Homo sapiens: one gene and its partner. The protein of the gene in region 1 interacts with the protein of each later gene in a pairwise test. Each region holds a gene or a part of one and is shown on either strand. Other genes may lie near its edges.

Region 1 (3,914 bases):
CGCGGTGGCGCGCGTCTGTAATCCCAGCTCCTCCGGAGGCTGAGGCAGGAAAATCGCTTGAACCCTGGAGGCGGAGGTTTCAGTGAGCCGAGATTGTGCCACTGCACTCCAGCCTGGGCAACAAGAGCAAGAGTCCATCTCAAAAAAAAAAGTTCAAGTTGATCAACATCCTTTCAAGCCCTTGGCATTGTCAAGAGTTTTTTGTTGTTTTAGCCATTTTATCTAGATTTAATTTTTAGGTTTTTAACGTGTTACCTGATATTTTAGCCAGTTTAATAACTTCATAGTGATATCTCATTGTGGTTTTAATATGCACTTCTCTAATAATAGCCTTGATCATCTCTTCATTTGCATATTAGCCATCCATATATCTTCTTTTGTGAAGTAGCTTTTAAAATGTTTTCTCCATTCTCTAATTAGACTGTTTCTCATTATTGAGTGTTGAGAGTTCTTGATACATTCTGGATACACGTCTCTTTATCAGATATGTGTTTTGTGCATATTTTCTTCTAGACTGTGGCTTATCTTTTGTTTTTCTTAATAACACGTGAAGCAACATTTATGGGAGGCCATTGTTTTGGAGCGAGCTCCTGCACAAGGTACCAACGGACCAGACCAAACCAGAATGGAATCGCTAGTGCAAGGTGCCACGTAATCAATGCGAACTTAGAGACAGGCCAGTCTGCCAAAACACAGAAGATTCACTGCAACCAACAAAAGGGGCCCTGTCCACCTAGGCTGGCATAAGGAAGCCCCCTCTGCTTTAACCCAAAGAAATGCATCTGAAATAACCTGATGCCAACCAATCGCTTTGTGCACTACGCTGTTTCCTTGTTCCTGCTCAAGCTACCTTACAAAACCCGGCTGCTGTGCCACGCCTGGCGGGGCATCTCCCCATTTCACACGTGGAGGCCGCCCCTTCCTGCCGTCTCCTCGCGCCCCCATGCAGAGGCTAGGGCTGCCGGGACCCGCGCGGCGCGAGCGGCTCAGGGCCCCTTTCCGGCCTGTTGTGCAGCCCGAGCCGTCTGCGCGTGCGCGAGACCGAGGCCTGGCCTGCCTCTGGGCGCCCACAGTGATCCCGTCCTCCGCTCGGCAACCAGATTCCGACGAGGAGCGCGCTGTGCCTCGGACGGGGGAAGGCGGGCTTCCTGAGTATAGTGCATTTTTTTTTTTTTTTTTTTTTTGAGACAGAGTCTCGCTCTGTCGCCAGGCCGAAGGGCAGTGGCGCGATCTCGGCTCACTGCAACCTCTGCCTGCCGGGTTCAAGTAATTCTTCTGCCTCAGCCTCCCGAGTAGCTGGGATTACAGGTGTGCGCCACCACGCTTGGCAAATTTTTGTATTTTTTGGTAGAGACGGGGTTTCGCCATGTTGGCCAGGCTGGTCTCGAACTCCTGACCTCAAGTGATCCGCCCGCCTCGGCATCCCAAAGTGCTGGGATTGTAGGCGTGAGCCCCCGCGCCCAGCCAAGCATCGTGCATTCTTTATAGAAATGAGGGGGAAATAAGCAATATGGAAAGCGCCTAGCGCAATATCAAGCACGTAGTAGGTACTCAGAACCTGTCACCCAGCGCGAAACGTCCGCAAAGCGTGTAAACAGACGCCCAGAAGCTGGGAAGCTTGCAGCCCTCATAGACGCCGGTATCGCCACGCCCTCTGCCCTCGGCGTCTCAGGAGCGCTCTCTGCCGGCCCGCTCTCCCCGTGCGTATGCACGTGCCGCCGCGTCTTCGCTTCGCTTTTTGTTTGTCCCTGACCGTGCGCCGTCCAAGGGTCCATTGGTTGCCATAGAGATCGTCGAGCGCTGGGCCTGTGATCGCTGAGGGGCGAGCAGTTGCGACCCTGGGCTCCTGGGGACCTGAGCGTTATGTCTTTCCGCGACCTCCGCAGTAAGGCAGCCCCGCGCCCCTGTGACCTGCGGGTCTTCCAGAGATTCAGGGCTCCCGCCCGCCGGGTCCCCTGTGTAGGCGATCCCTGAGGCTTGCGCTGCCGGAGGCTCCTTTCGGGCCTCTGCGCCTCAGGGACCGCCTGACCCGCGGCTGCAACCCGGCCGAGCGTCCCAGGCCCTTCTTCGGCCATTTCTAGCGAGGATGGAAAGTTCTCTATCTGCCACTGGCCGCGTGTGGCTCAGAACGCTTGAAATGTGGCTAGTGCAGATGAATAACTGAATTTTTAAGTGTAATTTATTTCTGTTTGTGTAGCTGCATGCCGCTCTTCGCTACCGTATTGGAAAATGCATGGAGAGTTTAGAGACTATTTTTTGAGTTGGGTTAGCTTAGCGCTTAGAAAACCGAACAGCAGGCCGGGCGCGGTGGCTCACGCCCGTAAGCCCAACACTTTGGGAGGCCGAGGCGGGCGAATCACCTGAGGTCGGGAGTTCGAGACCAGCCTGACCAACATGGAGAAACCCCGTCTCTACTAAAATTACAAAATTAGCCGGGGGTGGTGGCGGGCGCCTGTAATCCCAGCTACTCGGGAGTCTGAAGCAGGAGAATCGCTTTGGAGGTTGCGGTGAGCCGAGATCGGGCCATTGCACTCCAGCCTAGGCAACAAGAGCGAAACAACATCTCAAAAAACAAAAAACAAACCAAAAAAAAAACAACCAGCAACGAAACCGAGGAGAGGAGGCTGGGTGATAATCATTGCGGCTAACATTTTTTGAGTTTTAACGATCTGCCAGGGCCCGCTCTGTGTTATGCGCATTTCATTTTAATCATCTGAACAACTCTGTGCCCCCTGTATTTGGTAGTGAGGAAACGGGCACAGAGAGGTCAGGTAACTTGGGCAGGTGATACAGGCGGTAGGAGGTGGCACTGGGGCTTGAATTCAGGTTGCCTGAACTCCAGACATCCTGAACTCCATCTGCATCCTTTCTGCAGGGCTGGTAAGGAGAAGGGAGCTCGAATTCCTTTGCTAAGAGGGTGGGGAAGTGGAAGAACGAGGCTAAGAGTGTTGGTTACGGCTGGGCGCAGTGGGTCACGCCTGTAATCCCAGCCCTTTGGAAGACCGAGGCAGGCGGATCACTTAATTTCAGGAGTTCTAGACTAGCCTAGCTAACATGGCGAAACCCTGCCGCTGCTAAAAATTCAAAAAATTAGCCGGGCATGGTGGCGCGCGTCTGTAGTCCCAGGTACTTGGGAAGCTGAGGCAGGAGAATTGCTTGATTCCGGGAGGCAGAGGTTGCAGTGAGCCAAGATGGCACCACTGCGCTCCACCCTGGCCGACAGAGTGAGACTGTCTTTAAAAAAAAAAAAAAAAAAGGAAAGGTAGATGATGATTGCCAATTTGGTGTGATCCGAGGGGTCTCTTAAAGCCAGTTTTCTCGTCCAATTGTTGGTGCCTGAAATTTTAGCATTAGAGATTACTCCTTTTGGTTATGAATTGCTCTTTTCTACAATGTAAAAATATCTAGGAAGACGCATTACCTTTTATCCATGCAGCCACTGAGCACCAGAGTGTGAATCCTGCCCTCTGGGGTTTGAAGGTTTTTGGTGGCCACACATCATGCAGGATGACTGTCTCCTCCCACATAGTTTTTAGAGAGGCCAGCACCCTGCCGGGGGACGTAGAATGGGGTTTTGTTGGGGAGCGCACACACGGAGATTTCGGAATATTTTGATCTTAAATTAATGCTCTGCAGTTGTGCAGTGTATGGTAAGGATCTTACTCAAATTAGTGTCTATTTTGACAATAACACCGCAGCATTAACAGAACTTGACTAGTACCTAGTGGTCAGGAGTATTTAGGCAGTGCCTTACTGTGTGAAGGAAAGGCTGCTGCTTTCTTTTCTGTTCTTTTTTTGAGACAGTCTTGCTCTGTCTCCCAGGCTGGAGTGCAGTGGTGTGATCTTAGCTCACTGCAACCTCTGCCTCCCAGCAATTCTCCTGCCCCAGCCTCCCCAGTAACTGGAATTATAGG
Region 2 (3,814 bases), on another chromosome or scaffold:
TGCTGATTGACTTGCTCTACATACAGAGGGTTGCCACAAACCTTCAATTTGTAAAAAATGCATTATCTATGAAACTGAATAAGGTGAAGCACAATAAAATGAGGCGTGCCTATATTCCTGGATTGTGAACTCTTTGAGGAAATGATCCATGTCTTATTCATCTTTGTACATCCAGCACCATGCCCTATGCCAAGGATGCCACACCGCTGAATGGTGTTTTTTTTTTTTTTGAGACAGTCTTGCTCTTTTGTGCAGGCTGAGTGCAGTGGTGCTATAATGGCTCACTGCAGCCTTGACTTCCTGGGCTTAAGTGATCCTCCCACCTGAGCCTCCTAAGTAGCTGGGACCACATACGTGTCCCACCATGCCCAGCTAATTTTTACTTTTAATTTTTGTGGAGATGAGGTCTCACTGTGTTGCCCAGGCTGGACTCAGACTCCTGGACTCAAGCAGTCCTCCCGCGTCCATCCCTCAAAGTGTTGGGATTACAGGCATGAGCCACCAAAACCGGCTGTCACATGGCTGAATTTAACTGACTTATTTTGGTGCAAAATTGAGTGACCAATGGACATATTCATTGCACATATAAATAATAACTGCATTTGTATCATAATGATATGAAAGAACAATGCTTATGCAAAATGTCCCACGTAACTATGTGGATATAGAGGTTTGTAGAATTTATTATAAGGAAATAAGGCAAGCTTAAAGAGTATATTTTGTACACATTATTTTCTATTTTGTTTAGGAATAAAGACAAGATAGAACTAGACAGCAGCAGCCCAGCCTCGAAGGAAAATGAAGAAAAGGTGTGTCTGGAATATAACGAGGAACTGGAGAAGCTGTGTGAGGAACTGCAGGCCACCTTGGATGGGTTGGTAAGACATAAAGACGCAGGCCACTTGTGGTCACTGTCACTGAATCCGATGGACGTATTTGGGGTTTGCTTGACCATTGGCCATCACTTACTCCTTCTCAGTCTCCTCTGATGTTCTCTTCCTCTGCCTGCTGCGTAAACCTTAATGTTCCCCAAGATGCTGTCTTAGACACTCACTCCTCCTGTGCGTCATCCGGGGAAATGTCACCCACTTTCAGGGCTCATCACATAGTAAATTTTTTTTTTTTTTCCATGATATGGAGTCTTGCTTTGTCGCCCAGGCTGGAGTGCAATGGCGTGATCTTGGCTCACCGCAAACTCCGCCTCCTGGGCTCAAGCGATTCTCCTGTCTCAGCCTCCAGAGTAGCTGGGACTACAGGCGTCCGCCACCATGCCTGGCTAATTTTTGCATTTTTAGTTGAGACAGGGTTTCACCATATTGGTCAGGCTGATCTCAAACTCCTGACCTCAGGTGATCCACCTGCTGGCCTCCCAAAGGGCTGGGATTACAGGCATGAGCTACCACGCCCAGCCACAGAGTAAATATTTTAGGCTTCCAGGGCCAGCCAGTCTCTATCTCAGCTACTCATCTCTGCCACATAGGACTAAACAGCCATAGATAATATATGCGTAAATGGATGTGGCTGCATTCCATGAAAACTTTATCTTTGTTTTTTGGATTTTCTTTTTTTTTTTTTTTGAGATGGAGTCTCATTCTGATACCCAGGGTGGAGTACAGTAGCATGATCTTGGCTCACTGCAAACTCCGCCTCCCAGGTACAAGTGATTCTGCTGCCTTAGCCTCCCAGGTAGCTGGGATTACAGGCTCGTGCCACCACATGAGCTAATTTTTGTATTTTTAGTAGAGACAGCATTTCACCATGTTGACCAGGCTGGTCTCGAACTCCTGACCTCAAGTGATCAGCCTGCCTTGGCCTCCCAAACTGCTGGGATTACAGGCGTGAGTCACCGCACCTGGCCTTTTTTGTTTTTGTTTTTGTTTTTTTTGAGACAGGGCCTCACTCTGCCACTGAGGCTGGATGGAGTGCAGTGGCGAGATCTTGGCTCACTGCAACCTCCGCCTCCTGGGTTCAAGCAATTCTTGTGCCTCAACCTTCCACATAGCTGGGATCGCAGGTGTGCGCCACCATGCCCAGCTAATTGTTGTATTTTTAGTAGAGATGGGGTTTCACCATGTTGGCCAGGCTGGTCTCGAAGTCCTGGCCTCAAGTGATCCACCCACCTCAGCCTCCCAAAGTGTTGGGATTACAGGCGTGAGCCACCATGTTCGTCCAGGAAATCTTTATCTTTGGACACCGAAATTAGAATTTTGTATAATTTTTATGAGTCACAATCACTATTGTCCTTTTGGTTATTTTCAACCATTTAAAAATGTAAAAACCATCTTAGCTTATGGGCCATACAGAAATAGGCTATGGGCCAGAATTGACCTGTGTTCCAGGGATAGTTTGCCCATCCCTGATACAGCACGTAAGAGACTAAAGTGTTTGTTTAATGAACTAATAACTAAATTTCAATACCTACCATACTGGCCACCAGATGTGAAGATAACACCACCTTATTTCTTTGCTAGGCACAGGAAATCAGGTTTTACACATATTTGAACTTGGATAACTGAAGCTTACCCATAAACATTTAAGATCTTTATATTTTCACCTTTTTGTTTGTTTGGAGACAAGGTCTCGCTGTGGAATGCAGTAGTATGATCACAGCTCACTGCAGCCTTTACTTCCTGGGCTTAAGTGATCTTCTTGCCTCAGCCTCCCGAGTAGCTGGGACTACAAGCATGAACCATCATGCCCGGCTAATTTTTAAAATTCGTTTGTACAGACGGGGTTCTCATGTTGGCCAGGCTGGTCTCGAACTCCTGACATGAAGTGATCTTCCCACCTTGGCCTCCCAAAGTGCTGGGATCACAGGTGTGAGCCCTGGCGCCCTGCCTTAGCTTTTCCGTCATGTCTTGTTTTGGCTTCAGGATCCTGTATGACATCGAGTCCCCTTGTTTCCTCAGGCTCCTTTTGGCCGTGACAGTTTCTCAGACTTCCCTGTTTTTGATGACTTTGACAATGTTGAGGGATACTGGTCAGGTATTTTGTAGAACATCATGAGATTTATCTGATGTTTTTCTCCTAATTAGACTGAGGTTACGGGTTTTGTTCAGAGGAGGACCACAGAAGTAAAGTGCCATTTCTATCATGTCATATCAAGGGCACGTACTGGATATACTGTCATCAGGACTTTTCTTTGGGTCCCACCTATTGCCCGGGCTGGTCTCAAACTCCTGGGCTCAAGCAGTGCTCCCACCTCAGCCTCCCAAAGTGCTGGGATTCCAGGCGTGAGCCACTGTGCACAGCCAGGACTTTCCACTGCTGAAGTTGACCTTGATCACCTGGCTGGGCAGTGTTTCCAGGTTCCTCTGCTGTGACGTTGCTCTTTCTCCTCCTCCCACGCTGTGCTCTTTGGCAGGAAGTCACTATGCATAGCCCACACCTGGGGGTAGGGACGTATTCACCACCTGCTTGAGGGTGCAGTATCTACATAAATTATTTGGAATTATTCTGCGTGGGAGATTTGTTCCCTCCCTCCCATTTGTTAATTTTTTTTTTTTTTGAGATGGAGTTTCACTCTTGTTGCCCAGGCTGGAGTGCAGTGGGGTGATCTCTGCCCACTGCAACCTCTGCCTCCTGGGTTCAAGTGATTCTCCTGTCTCAGCTTCCCAAGTAGCTGGGATTACAGGTGCCTGCCACCACACCCAGCTAATTGTTGTATTTTTATTTGTTTTTTTTTAATTTTTGTTTTGGCCAGGCGCAGTGGCTCATGCCTGTAATCCCAGCACTCTAGGAGGCCGAGGCAGGTGGATCACCTGAGGTCAAGAGTTTGAGACCAGCATGGCCAACATAGTGAAACCCCATCTCT

The links.
Region 2: the proteins of CLUAP1 (region 1) and CINP interact in binary tests that used the Homo sapiens proteins (3 or more experiments, as listed by UniProt).

Annotation. Positions count from the first base shown.
Region 1 is NC_000016.10:3,499,205-3,503,118, forward strand, and holds the start of CLUAP1 (clusterin-associated protein 1), read left to right. Parts: upstream 1-1,799; 5' UTR 1,800-1,863; coding exon 1,864-1,885; exon of another isoform or gene 1,886-2,880; intron 2,881-3,914. UniProt on the Homo sapiens protein: Required for cilia biogenesis. Appears to function within the multiple intraflagellar transport complex B (IFT-B). Key regulator of hedgehog signaling.
Region 2 is NC_000014.9:102,352,832-102,356,645, reverse strand, and holds part of CINP (cyclin-dependent kinase 2-interacting protein), read left to right. Parts: intron 1-748; coding exon 749-878; intron 879-3,814. UniProt on the Homo sapiens protein: Component of the DNA replication complex, which interacts with two kinases, CDK2 and CDC7, thereby providing a functional and physical link between CDK2 and CDC7 during firing of the origins of replication.